Linked DNA regions of Homo sapiens. The protein of the gene in region 2 interacts with the protein of the main gene of each other region in a biochemical or structural test. Each region holds a gene or a part of one and is shown on either strand. Other genes may lie near its edges. The genes, in order: ARL2, PDE6D and ARL3.

Region 1 (7,692 bases), on a different chromosome or scaffold from region 2:
ACACCACTGTACTCCAGCCTGGGCGACTCAGCGAGACCCCGTCTGATTAAAAAAAAAAAAAGAGCAAACAAAGCCCTTGATCTCTCTGCCCCATCTAGTTATTCATTTATATCTTTCCTTTTACAGGAAATCTCAAAATAGTTGTTTGTGCTCACCCCCATTTCTGCCTTCTTGCTCTTTCAAGAACACACTCCCATCAGGCTTTTGCTGCTGCTGTGGCCAAAACTGTCCTTACCAAGGTCAGTCCCCAAAGACCTCCCTGTGGCCCTCTAGTGCTGGGACAGCGCTCAGTCATCTTCTGTTCCCCACTCAGCACCTGATGGAGTGGCTCACCCTCCTCCCCAGCACATGCGCTGCCCTTGGCACTGGGACACACCCTCACCTGGTTCTGCTCCTCACCTGACTTCATCCTGGTACAACCGGGTTCTCTTCTCTGGCCACGCTCATCCCTGGGTGACCTCATCCAGGATCACAGCTTCAAATACCATCTCTATCCTGATAACACCCAAATGTGCACCTCCCACACACTGGACCTCAGTGCCTACATCCAGCTGCCTGCCTGACACTTCTGGGCTGTCTCGGAGGCATCTCACATGGCACACACAGGCACACACAGGGTTCTCATCTCCACCCTGAACCTGCTCCTCCCCCAGTCCTCTCCATCTCAGCAAATGGTTCCTCACCCTTCTAATTGCTCAGGCCAGAAACTTCCATGACCTCACTACTTCCATCCTGGTCCAAGCCACCATCCTATCTCGCCTGCGTCACTGCAGTGGCCTAACTGGTCTGCGATTCCTTCTCTCCACTGCACTTCTCACTGAAAGGGAAAACCAAAAACCAAAAGGCCCTAGGTGAGGGGGTTCCCAGTCAACGCTCCTCCTCCCCACTCCAGCCATACTGCCCTCCTCACCAGTCCTCTGAACACGCCAGTTAGTCCTCCCAGGGCCTCTGACTTGCTGTTCCCTTTGCTTTAAAGTTTCCCCCCCCCCCGAATTGCTATATGGTTCAACCCTCGCCTCCCTCATGTACTCAATTGTCATTTTTTTTTTTTTTAACAGAGTTTCGCTCTTGTCACCCAGGCTGGACTGCAATGGCGTGATCTCAGCTCACTGCAGTCTCCGCCTCCCGGGTTCTGGCAATTCTCTTGCCTCAGCCTCCCAGGTAGCTGGGATTAAAGGTGTCCACCACCACATCCAGCTAATTTTTGTATTTTCAGTAGAGACGGGATTTCACCATGTTGGCCAGACTGGTCTCAAAACTCCTGACATCAGGCGATCCATCCGCCCCGGCCTTTCAAAGTGCTGGGATTACAGGCATGAGCCACTGCGCCCTGCCATCATACAGTGGCCTTCTTTGACCACCCTAAATTGCATTATTCTCCATACCTATATACGTAGTGGGAGTTCATCCTGGAGCAGTATAAGGCCCTGTTCCCCAGAAGCATGGTCCAAAGCATGGCCCATATATATATAGTATGTATGGAGAATATATATATGTATAAATAGAGACAGAGTCTCACTATGTTGCCCAGGCTGGTCTCAAACACCTGGGCTCAAGCGAACCTCCCACCTCAGCCTCCCAAAGTGCTAGGGTTACAGGTGTGTGCCACCGCACCCAGCCTCTATTACATATTTTACTTACTTCCTGTGTTATCATCTTTCTACCCGCGGGCAACCCCCCCGCCACACACACACACACGCATTACAGAATTTCCATGAAGGTAAGATTTTTTAGTTTTATTACCCTGGGCACTAGGACAGTGTCTAGCACATATTAGGCACTCAATATTTATCAAATGAGTGAACTGTATGCTTTTCTTAGAGCTCTTTAAAGCAGACATGCGGCCCGGCGCAGTGGCTCACGCCCATAATCCCAACAGTTTGGGAGGCCAAGGCGGGTGGATCACTTGAGGTCAGGAATTCGAGAACAGCCTGACCAACAAGGTGAAACCCCGTCTCTACTAACAATATTTAAAAAAATAGCCGGGCGTGGTGGCGGGCACCTGTAATCCCAGCTACTTGGGAGGCTGAGGCAGGAGAATTGCTTGAACTCGGGGGGCGGAGGTTGCAGCGAGCTGAGATTGTGCCACTGCACTCCAGCCTGGGCAACAAGAGCGAAACTCCGTCTCAAACAAAACAAAATAAAACAGACATGGGCCGGACTCCGTGGCTCATGCCTATATTCCCAGAGTTTTGGGAGGCTGAGGCAGGAGGATCACTTAAGCCTAGAAGCTGGAGGCTGCGGTGAGCCTTGATTGTGCCACTGCACTCCAGCCAGGGCAACAGAGCAAGACCCTGTCTCAAAAAACAAAACAGTCATGATGTGATTATTAAGTTATATGTGCACGTAAGCGTCTTATCTCCCCAGCCATTCCCCCGCGGAGCCTGGCACAGAGCTGGGGGAACAGGTGCGGGCGCCTAACTGGACTCAGAAGGCGCACAGGGCGCACGGGACACTCGGGCCCACACACACACATCCTCAGCCGCAGGGACAACCACGGGCCGCGTAACACCAAAGAGACGGACTGTTGGATCCACGCTCGAAAGGATCCGCGGAGCCCACACGCGCCACCCGCCACCCCGCACGCCCCCGGGATTCGGAGCTCGAGGGCGGGGCCGGGGCCTGGAACCCTCGGGCCCGGGGGAGGAGATCAGAGCCGGGAGGGCAGCGGCCCCACGCTTGGGCCAGGCCGCCGGGTGGTGGCGTCCGAGTTATCTCCGGGACCCACCACCCCTGACACTCGGGCCGCCTAGCCCCGCCGCTGCGCCTGCAGGACCGCTTCTGCGGCCCTCGGAGCTGGCCCCTGCCCCAGTCCTGGGGTGCGGCTCCTCCCGGCCCGACGGGGCGATTGATGGGGCCCGCGTGGTGACGCCAGGGGCAGTTGGGACGCGCCGGCCGCCGCGTTCCGCTCCCGACAGGGGGCGCCCGGCACCGCCTGCCCGGCTGGACCCCGCCACCCTCGCGGTTCCGGCGTCCGGTAGGATACAGCATGAGCAGTCGCAGCTCCCGCTCTTTCTGCTTCATCTTCTTCAGAATGGTCAGGAGCCCCATGGTCCCCGGAGCCCCCTCCCGGCCGCCGTTTCTTCCCAGTCCCGGGACCCCGCTCCCGGTTCCTGTTGGCTATCACGCTCGCCGACGGCATAGTCGATTGGCCGGACGCTCGTTTGGTCCCGCCCTTGCCGCACGTGACCGCGAGGTCGCCCGCGCAGCTGCTGCGAGGGTCCCTCTAGCGGCGCGGGGGGTTTCTGTGCTGCCGCCCGCCCTGACGCTGCGCCTCCCGAGGGCTGAGGCTGGGGGAGCAAGGGCGACTCCCCCACCCTTTCCCCTGCCGGACTGGGGCTCTTGGCCGGAGCGGAAACCTTGAAGTTCCTGAGTTGCATCTTGGCTGCGTCTGACCTGAGAGTCAGAACCCAGGGCCCCCAGGTACGGACGAACTCATCCTGGGGCCAGTGTAGGCCCCCGTTCCCAGCAACACAGTCCAAATCCTGCTCATCTGGGCCCTCGGCATCATCCTCTGACAGAGCGGAAAGTTGGGCCTCCCCCTACCCGGCTCCGGTGGCTCTCAGTTCAGGGCGGCGGTGCCCCCTGGAGGCCGTTCGGAAACATGCGGGGCGTCCCTGGGTTCCAATGACGGAATTGCAGTCCCGCCCCAAAGGCTGCCCCCACCCAGAGGCCCAGCGTTTCCCTGTTCAGAAGCACAGTTCCTACTTTTGCAGATGGAAAAACTGAGGCCCAGATGGTGCTTAGCACAGTGGCTGGCATGTAGTAGGTGCTCAATAAATATTTGTTGTTGAATGAATGGCTTTGTCCAAGAGTTTCATTCTTTACTTTAGCGCTCAAGAAGTCCAGAAGAAGTGAGGAAATAGGTCAAGGACCAAGCCCTTTTGTAAACTCAGGAGACAGCCTTATTGCTGCAGGTAAGTGTGGATAGGCAGCACGGAAGAGCCTCTCTCATGCTTGGGAAAGAGCTGTCAGCACCAGCTGAGGACAATAGCTAACTCCTGTGTAACTGTTTGCAACGCACTTCACGTGTTCAGCTTCATCCTCCCTGCAACCCTGAGAGGTTTATATTCTTTTCGTAGCTATGATAATGGAATCCAGAGTGTTTAAGGAGCATGGGTGAGATTCAAACTCAGGTCTAGTAAATGGTAAAGCACAATGTCTTCATGCCTCCATGAAGTTTGCCTAGAGAGAGGTCTGGAAGAAGCTGGAGCTTCCCATCTTGCAGAAAGGGGCTTGTGGTCAGAGGAGGGCTGAACAGATAGGCTGCCTGAGTGGGACCCTTCGGTCAGCACCATTTACCCTCCATCACACACACACAAGGAAGAAAGTGAGCATATCGCCTACCCAGAGGCTTCGAAATGCAGCTAAGATCAAAATGGGAAATGCTGGCCGGGCGCCATGGCTCACGCCTGTAAACCCAGCACTTTGGGAGGCCGAGGCAGGTGGATCACGAGGTCAGGAGTTCAAGACCAGCCTGGCCAACATGGTGAAACCCCGTCTCTACTAAGAATACAAAAAATTAGCTGGGCGTGGTGGCGGCACCTGTAATCCCAGCTATTCGGGAGGCTGAGGCAGAGAATTGCTTGAACCCAGGAGACGGAGGTTGCAGTGAGCCGAGATTGTGCCACTGCACTCCAGACTGGGTGACAGAGTGAGACTCCGTCTCAAAAAAAAAAAAAAAAAAAAAAAAGAAATGTCTAGAGGTAGGAGCCTGCCATCCTGCTTCTAGGAGCCTGCACCACAGACATTCTGGCACTGCACAGGAACAACGAAGTTCACTGTGGCATGGTTTGGAACAGCAAGAAATTGGAAAAAACCTAAGTGCCTCCAGTGAGGGCAGGTTACCTGAGCCGGGGTAGGTGCATGTGAATTCATGAAGCCCTTAAAACAGTGAAGTGGGCCAGGCGCAGTGGCTCATGTCTAATCCCAGCACTTTGGAAGGCAGAGGTGAGTGGATTGCTTGAGCCCAGGAGTTCAAGACCAGCCTGGCCAACTTAGGGAGACTCCCATCTCTATAAAAAATACAAAAATTAGCCAGACATGCTCACTTCAACCCAGGAGGCGAAGGTTGCAGTGAGCTGAAATTGTGCCACTGCACTCCAGCCTGGGCGAAATTGTCTGTCTCAAAAAAAAAAAAAAAAATTAGGTGTAGTGGTGCACATCGGTAGTTCCAGCTACCTAGGAGGCCAAGGTGGGAACCAGGGAGGATAAGGCTGCAGTGAGCCGTGATCATGCCACTGCACTCTAGCTTTCATGACAGAGTTAGACCGTCTCAAAGAAACAGAAAACAGTGAGGTGGAGCTGTAAGATACCAGTGTGGAAAGATGTCCGCGCCATATTAAATGAAAAACAAAAACAAAAATTCAGTCCTCTTTTAGTTTTAAAAATAATATTAACTGGAAATATGCCCACTTAGCAATGTTTTTTAATCTATGAGATGCATTCCATTAAGGAAGTGGATTGTAAAATTAGTGTCACAAATAGGTTGAACTGTATGAAATTGCCCATATTTGACAGTTTTGATACACAGATGTATTTCAAATGGTTCAACCTAGTAGCATTAACAAAAATGAAATAGAATGAACAGAACTGAAAACATTACTACCTTTACCCACGTAGTAAAGCTAAGTAGCGTTTGGTGAAACATTTGTTTTAGATATTTATACAGATATGTGTACTTCTCACTGTGAATCACAGTCACAAAAGTTTGAAAATCAGGGCAATGAAGTTTGGGAGAACATAAAATTATTACCTTGGGTGTGTCTATATTTTCTTTTTTTCTTTGAGACAGAGTCTGGCTCTGTCACCCAGGATGGAGTGCAGTGGCACAATCCTGGCTCACTGCAACCTCTGCCTCCCAGGTTCAAGCTATTCTCCTGCCTCAGCCTCCTGAGTAGCTGGGATTACAGGCATGAGCCACCATGCGCGGCTAATTTTTATATTTTCAGTAAAGACAGGGTTTCACCATGTTGGCCAGCTGGTCACAAACTCCTGGCCTCAAGAGATTTGCCTTCCTCAGCCTCCCAAAGGGCTGGGATTACAGGTGTGAGCCACCGCACCCAGCCTCGGATTGTTTTATTTCCTACCAGTAGCATTGAAAGAACTTGTTCAAATGTCTGGCTTAAAGTCTTGCCTGTCCATGCTGTTGTTCCCAGGGGCCACATGGTAGAATTTCAGTGAATATAAATTAAAAAAATAAAAATAAACAACATCCAAGCTCTGTGAAAAAGGGGGAGTTCAGGAAGTAACTATGTTTAGCTTTTTTTTTTTTTTTTTTGAGACAGAGTCTTGCTCTGTCGCCCAGGCTGGGGTGCAGTGGCGCAATCTCAGCTCACTGCAAGCTCCGCCTCCCGGGTTCACACCATTCTCCTGCCTCAGCCTCCCGAGTAGCTGGGACTAAAGATGCCCGCCACTATGCCTGGCTAAGTTTTTGTATTTTTAGTAGAGACGGGGTTTCACCGCGTTAGCCAGGATGGTCTCGATCTCCTGACCTCGTGATCCGCCAGCCTTGGACTCCCAAAGTGCTGGGATTACAGGCGTGAGCCACCGCGCCCGGCCAACTATGTTTAACTTTTTAAACATATTTTAGAGACAGGGTCTCACTCTGTCACCCAGGCTGGAGTGCAGTGGCACAATCATGGCTCACTGCAGCCTCAAGCAGTCCTCCCACGTCAGTCTCCTGAGTAGCTGGGACTACAGGTGCATGCCATCAAGCCCGGCTAATTTTTTAAATTTTTTGTAGAGACGAGGGTCTCGCTGTGTTACCCGGGCTGGTCTTGAACTCCTGTGCTTAGGTGATCCTCTCACCTCAGACTTCCAAAGTGCTGGGATTACAGGCATGAGCCACCCCACTTGGCCTGTGTTTAACTTTTGAAGAACTGACTGTAGCTAGAAATTGGGTGGAGAGGCATTTAAAGACAAGTAAGGGGCCTCATTACGAGCTGTGTTTTCATTTGCCTCATGGAAAGGAGGAGAGCTCTTTTTTTTTCTTTTTTTTTTTTTTGAGACGAAGTTTTGCTCTTGTTGCCCAGGTTGGAGTGCAATGGCAAAATCTCGGCTCACTGCAACCTCCATCTCCCAGGTTCAAGCGATTCTCCTGCCTCAGCCTCCCAAGTAACTGGGATTACAGGTGTGCACCACCACACCTGGCTAATTGTGTATTTTTAGTAGAGACGGGGTTTCACCATGTTTGTCAGGCTGGTCTCAAACTCCTGACCTCAAGTCATCCACCTCGGCCTCCCAAAGTGCTGAGATTACAGGCAAGAGCCAATGCACCTGGCTTTTTTTCTTTCTTTTTTTTTTACTTTCAAGCAGAGGAGCAGAAGAGCACTCTTAAATAAAATCTTTGGGAAATACCTTTGGAAGAAAACTAGGAAAGAAGATGTATAGAGCTGTAGTTATATATAATTGTGAATATGAATATATATATATATTTTTTTTTCACAAGAAAGAATCGTGAAATTAAAATACCCAAATCGTGACATCTGTGAAACCTGCTTTTGAAGGGGAAACTTCTTAGGGCCGAGTAAGTGGCTTGTAACTTGAGGATAGAGATCTACAGCCTTTTAACAAGGCATGTTTACCCAACGTCTAGAAAGAAAAATTTGGCATTATTATTATTTTTAAGACAGGGTCTCACATTATTATTATTATTATTATTATTATTATTATTATTTTTGAGACAGGTTC
Region 2 (7,101 bases):
AACCTTAAAGTCAATAACCTCAATTTTTAACAAATTCAATATGGCTTTCATAAAGGAACTGTTGAAAGAGATGATCCAATATTACACAATTATCTGTGGGACTAACTCTTTTTTTTTTGAAATAGAGTCTTGGTCTGCTACCCAGGCTGGAATGCAGTGACATGATCTTGGCTCATTGTAACCTCCACCTCCTGGGTTCAAGCAATTCTCCTATCTCAGCTTCTTGAGTAGCTGGGATTACAGGTGTGTGCCATTACGCCCAGCTAACTCTTTAGAAGGTACTATTACTATAACATTTGAGAGACTAACATCTTTCCCACAGACAATGGGAGGTAGGAAGTTATTGACAGTGTTTTTGGAAAAAGCACAAACAAATTGTTCTTGGAACAGGAACCAAAGCTATTAATATGGTAAGCCATTCTCCAAAAAACTGTAACCAAGTAGTATCCTCGAAAACAGAATTATTAATAGGACTTTGCCAGATTCTGTTAAAGGTGATCTAAACAAAATACAGAGATACCGGAAGTACGGTAGTCAGGAATGGGAGCAAATTAACATAGATTCGGTATATATATTAAATGCCAGTCTCCTTCCATGTCATCACATTTTATCTTCATTACACCTCTGTAAGACAGAATTAATTTCTGTGTTTAGAGATGAAAGACTAAGGCTCAGAGAGATAAAGTATATTAGTGCCCAAGATGACACAGGTAGTCAGGGTGAATCAGGAATTTAAATCTGGTTTAATCTAAAGTTTTATTTTTATTTTTAGTTTTTTATTCTTTCTACTCTATCATACTGTCTTTTTCATATGAAAAAGGTCAGGAACCTGGAAACCTAGATACCCTTGGATACTCTTTTACTCTATTTCTCAACCGAGCTCTCTGCCCACTGAATGGCACCAGGAGTCCCACCTGCCTGGAATGCCTGTTTCTAGACACACTTCATAATTTCCTGAGACCTGCTCACTCACGTTAAGACGCTTGCTGGCATCATCTGGGACTCGGGTGCTGCCTCTATCAAGGACTGCCAGGTATTTGTGGAGTTAGGGATCACAAAGCCAAACTCGAAGAACCATTCTGAAGGAAGAAGGAAAAGCCGGGGTGAGCAGGTGCCCCAGTATAAAGTTTAAGGGCTCTTTGTCTCCCTCTCTAGAGTGAGCCTCTTCCTACCCTGAGAACCACCAAAGGAAGCTATCAGCAACCTCTCAGACCAGGGGCGTAAAAAAGACAGGGAAGCCTGCTCAGGTTGTCCTCTGAACCACACCAAAGGCTTGCTTCTCATGCTTTGAGGTCTAAAGGACTAGGACCAGCGAGCAGGACACAATATAAGCAGCATTTTCTTAGAGGTAGGCTAGATGTGAACTATATATAGATACATAGTTAAATTCACTTGGAATTAGCTTGAAGGGGCTTATGTGCCCTTTACACTGCATGGTGAGAATTCAATGCAGAGTGGCCTTGCCAGTCAAATCTGTATGATACTGTATGTAGAGCACTGTACTAGGCCCTGCTCATAGCAGCTTCCTCCATGATCATATCACAATACAACGTCAGTGCCTAAACCAGGCACCACCATCCACGCTCCCAGTGTCAGAGACCTCAAAGCCCCTTGTAGTGGCTAGCTTTGTTTTGGTTTGTTTCACTGGGGATTCACAGTCTTGCAGAGTGTAGGAATCCTACCACAAACTGAGTTGTAAAAGGAATGTTATCAAAGCACTGCTTTAGTTCACTGGGTATTGTTGCCTTTTGTCCTGGTCGCCCTAAGCCCTGATTTCAGGCATGTAGGCAGCAGAATACCTTCTAGGCATTGCCCTTTGAAGTAAACTTTTTGTTCCAGGCGGAATTTTTCCATTTGTTCTGTCGAAGAAAAATTAAGTTCTCGAGACACTGCCTTGCACTTGAGGATTTTCTTGGGAACACGGGCTGGTAAGAGAAAAACAAATGTTGAAGCCTTTCTAAATGAAAACCACAGGACTATGATGCTTCAAATTTCTGGGAGCTTCTTACAGCTGATTTAGAGAACACTTTCTTACAGCTGATTTAGAGAACACTTTCTTACATTTTGGATAATGCCTTGGTAAGTGCATTACACTTTGTGTGGCTGAAAGCAGAGGTCTCTAATTGGTCACCCGTATCTGAAAGATATTAGATCTTCAAGGAACACCAGGTTTTGTGCATCTAAGGGCCTCATCTAACTACTCTCATCAGGAAGGGGGCTGCATGGGTACCTTCTCTCTACTCTGTTCTGGTGATTTTAACCCCTTCCTTCTTCTTTACTTCAGGGAGATAAAAATGCAAATTTTCTTTTGGAGAAAAAGTTGAGATCTTAGTTTCTATCTTTGGGTATGTTCTAATGGTAAAATATCAGCACAAAATGGGTTTTGGGAAGTGAGAGAAAGAACTGTTAAGAAAGTAACTGGCTGGGCGTGGTGGCTCACACCTGTAATCCCAGCACTTTGGGAGGCTGAGGCGGGCAGATCACTTGATGTCCGGAGTTCGAGACCAGGATGGCCAACATGGTGAAACCCCATCTCTACTCAAAATACAAAAATTAGCCAGATGTGGTGGCGCACGCCTGTAGTCCCAGCTACTCGGGAGGCTGAGGCATGAAAATCGCTGGAACCTGGGAAGCAGAGGTTGCAGTGAGCCAAGATCACACCACTGCATTCCATCCAGCCTGGGTGATAGAGCAAGACTGTGTCTCAAAAAAAAAAAAAAAAAAAAAAAAAGAAAGTAACTGAAACTGTCAACAACACATGGATTAACATGCTGTGTCTTCAGGGGCTCACCCGCCTATTAGGTATGTGTTAACTTAGCTCTCTTATGCTCAGGTGCTAGTCTGGCATTGGTCACAGCCCTGTGTAGATAAAGGGTTGGAAAGTACCTTCATGCTCCACACCAGGGACAGACAGGTCTTCTGTTCCTTGCCAGAGTATCTTCCCTGTCTCAGCATCCCGAAGGTTCATCCAATTTCTGATCAAATATGACTAAGGAAAAATAAGGCACTGAAAGTGACTCCCACTTTGTATTCTAGGTGTCTCATGTTTACTCCCACCAACTCTTGTTTACTTTTTAAAAAGTTTGTCAAACTGCTCATTGCCATGGAAGCACATAAGAATGTGAGGAGAGTCAAAAAGACATCTAAAGGAAGAAGCAGAAACCTAGAGAAGTTACTTTTATCTATGAGAATCCTAAGACTGCACACACCTAGAGACTGCAAGAAAGGGACAGAAAACGAATAGTGCAAAATTTAAAATTTACCAACAGGATCTGACCAACCAAGATAAAATACCTAAAGAAACAAATATCAGATGTACCCCAAGGAAACAACTCATGAAGATCACTCTATAGTGAATGCCACAGTCCATAAACTTCACCCACAAGCACAGAACTCTCAAATTGCTTTGTAGTGGCCCCCTCTGTTTTTTTTTTTTGAAACAGAGTCTCACTCTGTCACACAGGCTGGAATGCAGTGGCACAATCTCGGCTCACTACAACCTTCATCTCCTTGGTTCAAGCAATTCTTGTGCCTCAGCCTCCTGAGTAGCTGGAATTATAGGAGCACGTCACCAAGCCCAGCTTATTTTTGTATTTTTAATAGAGATGGGGTTTCACCATGTTGGCCAGGCTGGTCTCGAACTCCTGACCTCAAGTGATCTGTCTGCCTCAGCCTCTGAGTGCCCTGTTTTTAAATATGAGAAGATAGCCAAGTATCAACAGAAATTTAAGAAAGCATTTATTATGAAAGACAGACCAAAACAAACTAAAAGAAAAAAGTAACTTAGAAGAATAAAGAGGCTTACAGATAAAGACATAAGTTTTAAAAAGGAGCATTAAAAAAGAGAGATAAGACATAACCTTTACAGACACTAAAAATTAATATAATAAAATTCTGTATATTTTAGGTGAATTTCTCTGGTTTGAGGTTACAACTTATGAAGCTGGTTAACTGATGTTCTCTGTCAGAAAATGCCTTCTAACATAAGTATTTATATTTTCTAGTTTCTGTATTGTTTCATACATTAAATGAGTCAATAATACCAATTTAAAAAAGAATATTCAGAGAACAAAAAAGAACTCTAGAAACACATATATTTTGATAGCAGAACCAAACAACTCAACACAAAGACAAAATTGAAGAAAGCTTTCAGAACGAAAAAGGCAAGGATAGAAAACAGGAGAGCAGGCTGAGTGTGGTGGCTCACACCTGTAATTCCAGCACTTTGGGAGGCTGAGGTGGGTGGATTCCTTGAGCTCAGGAGTTTGAGATTAGCCTGGGAAACATGGTGAAACCCCATCTCTACAAAAATACAAAATTAACAAGTCATGGTGGTGCATGCCTGTGGTCCCAGCTACTCTGGAGGCTGAGGTGAGAGGATTGCCTGAGTCCACAAAATCAATGCTGCAGTGAGCCGAGATCATGCGACTGCACTCCAGCCTGGGCGACAGAGGGAGACCCTGTCTCAAAAAAAAAAAAAAAAAAAAAAAGGAGAGTAAAGGCACAAAAACTTATAGTCCAAGAATAGTCCAAGAGTTCTAGTGTCTAACTAATAGAAGTTCTAGAAAGGTAGAACAGAGAGAACAGAGGGGAGGATGGCATCAATAAATTAATTCAAGAAAATTTCGTAGATGGAAAGTGTCTAGGCCAGGAGCGATGGCTCACCTGTAATCCCAGCACTTTGGGAGGCTGAGGCGGGCGGATCACCTGAAGTCGGGAGTTCGAGACCAGCCTGACCAACATGGAGAAACCCCATCTCTACCGAAAACACAAAATTAGCCAGACGTGGTGGTGCCTGCCTGTAATCCCAGCTACTCAGGAGGCTGAGGCAGGAGAATCACTTGAACCCGGGAGATTGCGCCATTGCACTCCAGCCTCAACAAGAGCGAAACCCTGTCTCAAAAAAAAAAAAAAAAAAAAAAAAAGGGTGTAGCAAATGCCCAAGTCACATCATTAGTGCATTTACAGAATATCAAAGATAAAGAAAAGCGAAAAGCTTCCAGAGGTTAAACAAGTCATTATACAAAGGGTCAAATCAGAATAGGAAAAAAAATCAGAATAAATCAAATTCAAAAGGAACCCTGGAGGGTAGGAGACAACTTAGCAGGGCCTTTAAAATTTTCAGGGAAACAATTCCTGAAACAAACTAAAAAATATTTGCTTTCTTAAGAAACTAAGGAAAATATGGCTTCATCAAAATGACAGAGAAAACCAAGAAAGGGGATGACATGGGATATAGCAAGCAAGAAACAGCTGAAGGGAGTCCCCTGAGTGACAGTGAAGGAAGATCCCAAGACAATAGCTCTTTAACAGGTCTGGAGAGTGACTAGTCCAGGGTCCAGGCTAGAGCAGGTCACAAAGCTCAGGAAGAGATTTTCTTTTAAAAAGATAAAATTCATAGAATACCTAGTGTGTTTATATGGAAAGGAGATTTATACAATTAGAGGGAGATTTTGGGGTCAAATTCATGAGAAGCACAGAAAATCTAAGCAAATGACAAAAATCCAAGTACTGACATCAAGAAAAATTAAAGGTAGTACTGGAAGAAAAAAGTAGTCATAGTATAACTCATGGCTTCATTGCAAGTAGTGCTGATATGGTCATAACAATGAAAGCACATGCTAACACCCAATATAATTTACCTGGGAGGATGGGGGAACAAGAGTATGTATATCTGGATAGTCAGGCACGAAATGTTGAGAAACAACAAAACTGTCATTTTCCGTAGTGGAAAGTGGATAAATAATGCTAAAATGGAAACATTACGACATAGCCACATTTTGCTTTTTAGAAATACCAAGATGAATACCAAATAAATAAGCTAAAAAGGATTGAAAATAGTTTTCTCTGGGGAGTAGAAAATAGGGGGACAGGGAGTGGTGCTCTTCATTAGAAACTAGATAGACTGTGTTTTTTGTTTTTTTTTTGAGATGGTTTCGCTCTTGTTGCCCAGGCTGGAGTGCAATGGCATGATCTTGGCTCACTGCAATCTCCACCTCCTGGGTTCAAGCAATTCTCCTGCCTCAGCCTCCTGAGTAGCTGGGATTACAGGCATGCACCACCATGCCCGGCTAATTTTTGTATTTTTAACTGGAGATGGGGTTTCTCCATGTTGTTCAGGCTGGTCTCAAACTCCCGACCTCAGGTGATCCGCTTGCCTTGGCCTCCCAAAGTGCTGCGATTACAGGTGTGAGCCACCTTGCCCGGCTGACTATGATTCTTTAAATGATGAACACATACAACTTAATAAAAATAAAGACTAACTTTAAGAAGAGAGTGCTAAGGTTTTTTTTGTTTTGTTTTAAAAAACAATTGACAAACCATTAAAGGAAAAGAAAATTAACATTATGCAAGCACAGAGGCTGTCTGCAAAAGATCGTTAATATTTGCGAAGAGACTGAGCTGCAGATAAATATATGTATAATATAGATATAGTTTACATGTGTCTTTTTTTTGGTTTTCTTTTTTTGCTATCTTGTGATCAGACTCTCTTCCCAAAGAAGAGAGTCTCTACCTTGTGGAAGGCAGTGACTGCTTTGCACTACAGCAGCTAGAAAGGCCAGATCCTTTTCTCCCAGCCCTGGCATAATCAGGGGTGAGCACAAGAAGGCCTAGCCTTGGACACGTGCTACCCAGTTCTGGGGTCCTGAAGCTACAGGACTTTCGAGGGAGTTGGAAGTTCTTCAGGGTGGGGGCAGCAGGGGCATGCCAACCTGCCCTTTCCTACTGTGTGGTCTTTGCTACAGACCCTGTCCTTCAACTTCCAGGCAGCTCCAAAAGCCTCAGATACCCTTTCCCATTGTTTGAATAGCTTGCAGTGAAGAACCCTAAACAACACAGCTGACTGGAATCATCATGTGTGTAATAACACTATATTTTACCCTCTGGAGAGATTCTGTCTAGGTTTTGCTGCTATACGAGAAAAGTCTCGGCTGGGCGTCGTGGCTCACGCCTGTAATTGCAGCACTTTTGGAGGCCGAGGCGGGCGGATCACGAGGTCAAGAGATCAAGACCATCTTGGCCAACATGGTGAAACCCCGTTTCTACTAAAAATACAAGAATTAGCTGGGCGTGGTGGTGTGCGCCTGTAGTCCCAGCTAA
Region 3 (7,938 bases), on a different chromosome or scaffold from region 2:
ACTTGTATTCAGCTTCTGTGTGTGTGTGTGTGTGTGTGTATATATATATATATATGTATGTATATGTATCTGTATATATATATGTATATATATGTATGTGTGTGTGTGTTTTTATATATATATATGTATATACATAACACTGCACACAGTTTCAGCTAGAAAATAGGAACAGGCCGGGCGCGGTGGCTCACGCCTGTAATCCCGGCACTTTGGGAGGCCGAGGCGGGCGGATCACGAGGTCAGGAGATACAGACCATCCTGGCTAACATGGTGAAACCCCGTCTCTACTAAAAACACACACACACAAAATTAGCCGGGCGTGGTGGCGGGCGCCCATAGTCCCATCTGCTGCGGAGGCTAAGGCAGGAGAATGGCGTGAACCCGGGAGGCGGAGCTTGCAGTGAACGGAGATCGCGCCACTGCACTCCAGTCTGGGTGACAGAGCAAGACTCCGTCTCAAAAAAAGAAAAAAAAAAGAAGAAAACAGGAACAATACTTACATCTCAAGAGATGATGCTATGAGGATGAAATGAGGTCATGTATGTAAAGCATGACACATAACAGCCACTGAAAAGACTACCCTCGTGTTTTGTTTATTTTTTTAAAATAATTTTTCACGGGCCATTTTCTAACCAGAAAACATAAGTAACTGTTGGGAACAATCTTCAAATGTTGAACATGCTTGAGAACGACCACAAGCTCCATATATGTAGAAAGTGCTCCATAAATAATTACTGAATGAAGGAATCATATGTTAAATATAAGTGGTTAGTTACGTGCTAAAATTACTGTCATTTTAGTATTTTAGTAATTCATCAAGAACCTGGCACTGTAAAGCAGGGGTAAAATAGCTGACTCTAAATGTTCAGAGAAACCCATATTTGGGTTTTTGCCACAGTTACCCAAATTTGAAAAAAAATATGTATTTGTCACAGCTGAAGTTTAAAACAAAAACCAAAAAAACCTTGGGGTTCACGCTTCAGTTGTACAGTTAACCATGGGGGCTCATGGGATACCAGATGGGATACACTTAAGTCACACGACTGACTAAATTCAGTGTTTCACTTCAAGTTTTAAGAACAGCTCACGCTTGTGGAGATAGAAAAAAAATGTTTTTGGGAAACCAGATAAAGAATCCGGAATAATTTGTCTTAATTTCTTATTGTTCATCTTAGGAAAAAGGAAAAAAGAAAAACAAAATCTGTTTTCATCATTGAACACAACAGTTGTATACAACAGTGTTGTATATACACTGTAAATTTGTTGTATACTGTGCCAATTTGCACCTGGAAACATGGGCAGTGGTTAATTTACTGTGGCCTGTAATTATAAATTAAACAATCATGGATTACACAGTACACTTAATTGATCAACAAACTGGGAAAAGTTAGCCAACTCTCATGCACTTCTCATCCATAATGATGAATCTCAATCTCTGTTGGTTCGGCATGCCCTTTTCATTCCAATTCTAGCTATTTTCTGGGTAAATATTTATGTTTGTACTCATTTGTTGAGAAAAACTTTAACTTTAAAAGGACAGCTCACGTATAAATGATTAAGAAAAAGAAACAGTTGTAAAAATCTGTTTAGCCTGAGGTTAAAAAAAAACTGCAAGTGTAGCAAGTGTGAAATGTGATTGGCAACTTCAGATCAAATAACCCTACTTCTTTAACAATCTGACAATGTAAAATCAATTGAGTTTTTTTTTTCCTTTCTAAATCTACTCACTGGATAATCTGACCAAACATACATCTATTTTTTTTTTTCCTGGGCATCTAGTTTTTTTGTTTTTTTTTTTACTTCTTAAATCAACAGAAATGGCTCAACATTTCTAAAAGTCAAGAAAGGAACTAGGAAGAGAGTTGGAGCAGTGACTATAAGTTTGATGACAGGCTCTTTGCAGCCAACTAACCTGCTTTAAGTGTTCAAAATCAATTTTTCTTTGATAGCTCTAAAATTACTCAATTCCATTTTAACTCCCTCCAACTAACTGTACAGACATTAACAAGAAACAGAGTGTCAACGGTCAGATCTGTCACAACCATAATTTAGAATTTGGGAAAGCTTTAATTGGGACTGACAGAGAAAAGCCTTGCCCCGGATTGAAGTTCGATCTCCATTTTTAACTTCTCGTTCTTTTCAGTTTGGAGAACTCAAGCTAGGATTAAGATCTTTTGGTCCTGGTATGGTCACACGCAAGAGGAGACTGCAAAAGGTTTCGAAGGAAATTCTAGAGACGGAGCAGCTAATATGTCTTCATCAACATGGATTATGTATTGAATGAAAAATCGGTCATCACCAACAATCAGATCCTGCAAAACTCTCAGCAAATAACTAAATAATTCGGGACTGAGGAAGCGCACCCGCCACGCAGACACCAAGACGGCGTAAAATCCACCAGGCATCCCTTCCAAGCGGCACCCCTTTGTGTCGTGGGACTTACTTCCCTACCCCCCAGGGGCCCGCACAGCGCGAGAAGGAGGAGAGCTAGGCTACCATCTCCCCTGCTACCGCCAGGGCGACCTCAGAGCCAATGGGGCCGGCCTTCTCTCCGCTTCTGGCCGGGCTCCAGACGAACCCCACTTTACTGCAAAGCCGCGAGACCGATTGCCCGGGAAGTCTAAGCCTGCTAGCGAAAGCTGCTCTCCGCAGTTCCTGGGATCCGCCCTCACCCCTGTCCCCAGAGTAATGATGGAGCCCGGGCTCCGCACCCGGCCAGCCGCGCACTCTGCCAGCCCCTTCCCCAAGCCTCGGACCCGCTGCAAGCCCCGCCTTCCTCTCCAGGCCCAGGCCTCCCTCCAGGGCCCACCCTCGGGTCTCCCCGCCGACCCCCGAAATCAGTCCACAACCCAGATAGCAGGCTGAGCGACGTCCCATTCCCTCCTTGGCTTTAAGCGCAGTGCTCCGCCCTGGGCCTGGGGACGGGAGGGGGATAACCGGCCGGCTCCAAGGGGGCCCAGGCCCCCACACTCACCATCCTCCCGCCGAGTCCCTCCTCCTCCTCCTCCTCCTGCTGCCTCCCCCGTTACCAGGGGCAACTGCTGCGGCGCCGCCCCCGACGTCCCTCGCACGCACAGCTGAGGAGCTGAGCAGCAATACGGGGCGGGGTGCAGCTCCGCTTTCCCCAGAGTGCGCAAGTGCGCTAAGGCGCCCGCCCACGCAGTGGGCGGGCTACGGGAGCTGCAGAGGCCGCCGCCGGCTCGCCTGGACCAGGGAGTGGAGAAAGCCTGCCCACGTGGCTGGCGGGAGCCTCCCGGCCTGGGATTGGTCGAAAAGGAGGGGCGTGGGGCGGGCGTGGGGGCAGTTCCCCAGCCCAGGTCCTCCTCTCACCCGGGCCAGTTTTCAAGGCGGGCTGTAACTGGTGGCATTTGTCCCGGGACCAGGTAAGGGGCCTTGGGACAATGGCGCTCGCCCTGTCTACCTCCAATCCCCACATCTCGGGTGGGTGCTGAGATTGCTGTCCTGACTGCCCAGGCGGGGCTGCAGCGCGGGCTGGACTTCCACCTGCAGAAGCCACGTGGCGCGAAGTGCGCCCTGGGGCTGCAGATGGGCCCCTCTGCTCTGACCCCCATTGCCTAGGAGTGCCAGGCCGAGCGGCTGGGGCGTTACGAGCTGTCCGGGATGGGGGAGTACCGATGGGGGGAGGCCGTCTGTCGGAGGGCAAGAAGCAGCCTGGGGGCTGGCCCTGAGCCCTGAGGTGAGCTGAAAGCACAGGTGAAAGGCGTTTTGGGGATCGGCCCGGTTTTTGTTTTGACACAGGGTGTCGCTCTGTCGCCCGGGCCGGAGTGCGGTGGCGCGATCTCGGCTCACTGCAGCCTTTGCCTCACAGGCTTAAGCGATTCTCCCGCCTCAGACTCTCGAGTAGCTGGGATTGCAGGCGGGCGCCACCACGCCTGGATAATTTTTTGTATTTTGTTTTTGTAGAGACGGAGTTTCGCCATGTTGCCCAGGCTGGGCTCGAACTCCTGGGGTCAAGCCATCCGCCCGCCTAGGCCTCCCAAAGTGCTGAGACTACAGGTGTTCCAAAGTGGTGAGCCACTGTGCCCAGCCTCTGGCCGGTTTTGCTAAGCTGCTTTGGACAGGACCGCGTACCATCTGTAGTCCTGGAGGAGGCAAAAATGAGCCTGCATTTTTAGCCAAGGAAGAGCAAGTGGGACACTGGGGTGGGTTGGGAAGTGCTACCTCCCATCCCTTTCCCGATGCAGAGGACTATAAGAAGAGTTTACACAAACGTGCTAGGCCCTGTTCTAGACGCTGGAGACACAGCAGTGGACAAAATCAGCCCGTATGGAAATTACATCCTTCCTAATGAAATACATTTCATACCAAATTTCATTTTCACAACCCCTAGAAATTGGTAATTGCGGCCAGGCGCAGTGGCTCATGCCTATAATCCCAGCACTTTGAGAGGTGGAAGGGGAGGAAGGCTTGAGCCCAGGAGTTGGAGACCAGCCCGGGCAACACAGTAGGACCCTGCCTCTACAAAAAAAAATTTTTTTTAATTAGCCAGGTTCCGTGGCGCACTTGTAGTCCTAGCTACTCGGGAGGTTGAGGCTGGAGGATTGCTTGAGCCCAGGAGCTATTATCACATCACTGTACTCCAGCCTGGGTGAAAGAGCAAGACCCTGCCTCAAAAAAAAAAAAAAAAATGAAAACAAAAATCAACATCTGCTGCTTGCATACCTGCTTCAGATCCTTGGAGAGAAAAAGCAGTTCAGAGCCTTGACTAAGGAGGTGATGAATGGAGGTGATACAGGAGCACAAACCCCTATAATCTACTCATCTCCAGACTGTTGGCCCTTTTGTGAAAAAGGCAAGGGAGGTTGCTCTTTCTAAGTTGTCTGGTGCCTAACAGCCCACTTGCCTTGGAGTCAGACGAGTACCCATAAGCCTATACCTGGGCCTGCTCTTGTAATTATTACCCTCATTTTCCAGCTTGCTCTAGGCAGCCTTGACCTTAATCCTTGCCTGTCTCAGTGGTCTTTGTGTCTGACCTTCTGGGGTCTTTGGCTACCTTGATCTTCCTCTGATGTGAGTACCAGCGATGATGTTTCGTTTTTCTCCCTACCTGGGGCTACAAACAGTAATCTTGTGCACTTCTGCTTGTAAGAGGATACCTCAGAAGGAATTTGGAAGCTTGTTTTCTGATCTCTGATACCATTTGCCAGAGAAAATCTGCTCTTTCTGGGAAGGATGAGCATTACGTCAGAGGTGGCAGTAGTCTATTACTTTTTTTTTCTCTTTGTTTCCCTCTCTTTCTTTCCTTTTTTTTTTTTTTTTTTTTTTTGAGATGGAGTTTCACTCTTATTGCCCAGGCTGGAGTGCAACGGTGCGATCTCGGCTCATCACAACCTCCACCTCTCGGGTTCAAACGATTCTCCTGCCTTAGCCTCCCAAGTAGCTGGGATTACAGGTATGCACCACCACGCCTGGCTAATTTTTTATTTTTAGTAGAGACGGGGGTTTCTCCATGTTGGTCAGGCTGGTCTTGAACTCTCAACCTCAGGTGATCTCTCTGCTTTGGGCTCTCAAAGTGTTGGGATTACAGGTGTGAGCCACCGTGCCAGGCCTCGGAGTTGGCAAGTAGGCTATAGTGGATAGAGGACCTTGGGGAAGTAAGGCCTTAGCTGTTGTCCAATCTTTGAGGACTGGATCTGTTGATTGTTCGTGTTTATATCTGCTGCAAGCGCTTAGTGCAGGGCCAAGTGTATCAAAAATGCCCACTGTGGTGGCCCAATCCATGTGCACCTTTCTAGGCTTCAGTTTCCTCTTCTGTAAACTGAGATCTTAGATCACATGTCTTCAGGCTATGACATTCTCTCTCTCTTTTTTTTTTTTTTTTTTTTTTGTGGAGACGGAGTCTCGCTCTGTCACCCAGACTGGAGTGCAGTGGTGCGATCTTGGCTCACTACAACCTCCGCCTCCCGGGTTCAAGCGATCCTCCTTCCTCAGCTTCCTGAGTAGCTAGGATTACAGGTGCGTGCCACCACGCCTGGCTAATTTTTTGTATTTTTAGTAGAGACAGAGTTTCACAGGGTTAGCCAGGATGGTCTCGATCTGACCTCGTGATCCGTCCGCCTCGGCCTCCTAAATTGCTGGGATTACAGGCGTGAGCCACTGCGCCCGGCCTCAAGCTGTGACATTCTCTAATCCTAGGAGGGAGATATCATTAAATCACTGGTCTGATTTTTACTCCTACTTTGTTCCTAGTAGTGGGACCATACAGAAGTGGGGCTACCCTGGACATGATGATGACCTTTTTAGGGAAGACTAGATGTGGCTTGTGTGGGAGGAGGGACAGTAACTGTAGAAGAAAATTTAGAGACCAGTATGACTTAGTACAGGCAAGGTAGACAGTTTTGCAACTTCATGAAAGAAAGCGTGCTCTTAATTCTGTAACCTAGGCAGGTTCTAAGTTTGACTTAAAAGAGGTGACATCCTTGATGCCAAGAGACCCAAGAAGAAGTTGGAATGCATTTCAGGTAAGCAGTAAATATTCTTCGAGGGCATGTGAAACATGTAGCAGTAAACATCACAGACATGATCCCGATGCTTGTGAGCCTTACAGTCTGTCAGGGGAGGCAGACTTTACACAAATCACAGTCAATGACAAGAAGGTGACAATCACAAACGCCCAGCATGCTGCAAAGGACAGGATGCTGTAGGAGTATATATCACAGAAGGATTTGAGTTTGTCCTGAAGGAGTCGGGGAAGAGTGCCCATTGGGGGACAGTGGGTGTGTGGGGGGAAATGTTCCAGACAGATCGTTTAGTGTTTTTTTTGTTTTGTTTTTGTTTTGGCTTTATGTTTTATTTAAGACAGGGACTCTGCAGTTTCTATCCTGACTTCAATTAAGAAGGCAAAGGCTCTTGCATAATTAGCAAATGTTTAGATTACCCCTTGATGATAGTCCCTCCATTCTGAGAAGCAGAGGACTTTGCAATGTTGTGTTAAGGTGAACAGAGATGTCAGAGAAGGTCTGGCTCTGTGTGTATGTGTGTGCTGAGGGGGAGGCATAGCATTTTGCTCAGTCAGGCTGTCTCCAGCATGTATGAGCCTGGGGCTCTGTAAGCCAAGGCAGCGTGTGTTCAGCCAGCCAAGCTGACTCCTTTTAGGTTCATGTAGAGCATGGGAAAGTGAACTCTTTCCCCTCCTCCCACTCTTGCTTCAGCTGGGACTGAGATAAATGCCTTTGGTCTTTGAAGCAGCCTGCAGGAGGCCAGGTGGCAGGGAGAGGGGAAGTCTGTTTTGGCAGTGGACTCTTTCTGTCTGCCTTCTGACTTCTCTGGAGATTGCCGCTTCAGAGAAGCATCGGGGCCAGGCCAGGGCGCTGTGGATACTCCATATTGAGCCTCTCCTCTTGTTCCTGGTCTTTCCTCTTAGGAAATGGCGTACCTCCAGCATATCAGCTTCCTGATGTCTCTTCCGCCTTAACGAAAAATCTAAAAATTGACCACTGCTCTTCCTTCCCCAACACTGTCCCTTCTGCCTCCTTTCTTGAACTTGAACTCCTGGCCTCCCAAAGTGCTGGGATTACAGGCCTGTGCCTGTCTCCACCTCCTTTCTCTCTTCTTTCTGGTGGTTCTTCCCATCTTTGGGGGCTTCCTTTTCTCGGCTTCTTTTTTTTTTTTTTTTTTTTTTTTGAGACAGGGTCTTGCTATGTTGCCAAGATGGAGTGCAGTGGCGCCATCTCGGCTCGCTGCAACCTTCACCTCCCGGGTTCAAGTGATTCTCCTGCCTCAGCCTCCCAAGTAGCTGGGATTACAGGCGCCTGCCACCACGCCCGGCTAATTTTTTGTATTTTTAGTAGAGACAGGGTTTCACCATGTTAGCCAGGCTGGTCTCAAACTCCTGACCTCGTGATCCGCCCGCCTCAGCCTTCCAAAGCACTGGGGTTACAGGCATGAGCCACCGTGCCCGGCCTCAGCTTCTTTTTT

What was found.
Region 1: the proteins of PDE6D (region 2) and ARL2 are reported together in a solved structure, tested with the Homo sapiens proteins (2 studies listed by BioGRID and IntAct, with this or other methods).
Region 3: the proteins of PDE6D (region 2) and ARL3 interact in a biophysical measurement, tested with the Homo sapiens proteins (one study listed by IntAct).

The regions. Positions count from the first base shown.
Region 1 is NC_000011.10:65,009,567-65,017,258, reverse strand, and holds the start of ARL2 (ADP-ribosylation factor-like protein 2), read right to left. Parts: upstream 3,100-7,692; 5' UTR 3,052-3,099; coding exon 2,987-3,051; intron 1-2,986. UniProt on the Homo sapiens protein: Small GTP-binding protein which cycles between an inactive GDP-bound and an active GTP-bound form, and the rate of cycling is regulated by guanine nucleotide exchange factors (GEF) and GTPase-activating proteins (GAP).
Region 2 is NC_000002.12:231,736,214-231,743,314, forward strand, and holds part of PDE6D (retinal rod rhodopsin-sensitive cGMP 3',5'-cyclic phosphodiesterase subunit delta), read right to left. Parts: intron 4,894-7,101; exon of another isoform or gene 4,744-4,893; coding exon of another isoform or gene 4,666-4,743; intron 2,990-4,665; coding exon of another isoform or gene 2,976-2,989; coding exon 2,887-2,975; intron 1,926-2,886; coding exon 1,800-1,925; intron 1,080-1,799; coding exon 974-1,079; intron 1-973. UniProt on the Homo sapiens protein: Promotes the release of prenylated target proteins from cellular membranes. Modulates the activity of prenylated or palmitoylated Ras family members by regulating their subcellular location.
Region 3 is NC_000010.11:102,711,299-102,719,236, forward strand, and holds the start of ARL3 (ADP-ribosylation factor-like protein 3), read right to left. Parts: upstream 3,100-7,938; 5' UTR 2,978-3,099; coding exon 2,975-2,977; intron 2,864-2,974; exon of another isoform or gene 2,500-2,863; coding exon of another isoform or gene 2,497-2,499; intron 1-2,496. UniProt on the Homo sapiens protein: Small GTP-binding protein which cycles between an inactive GDP-bound and an active GTP-bound form, and the rate of cycling is regulated by guanine nucleotide exchange factors (GEF) and GTPase-activating proteins (GAP).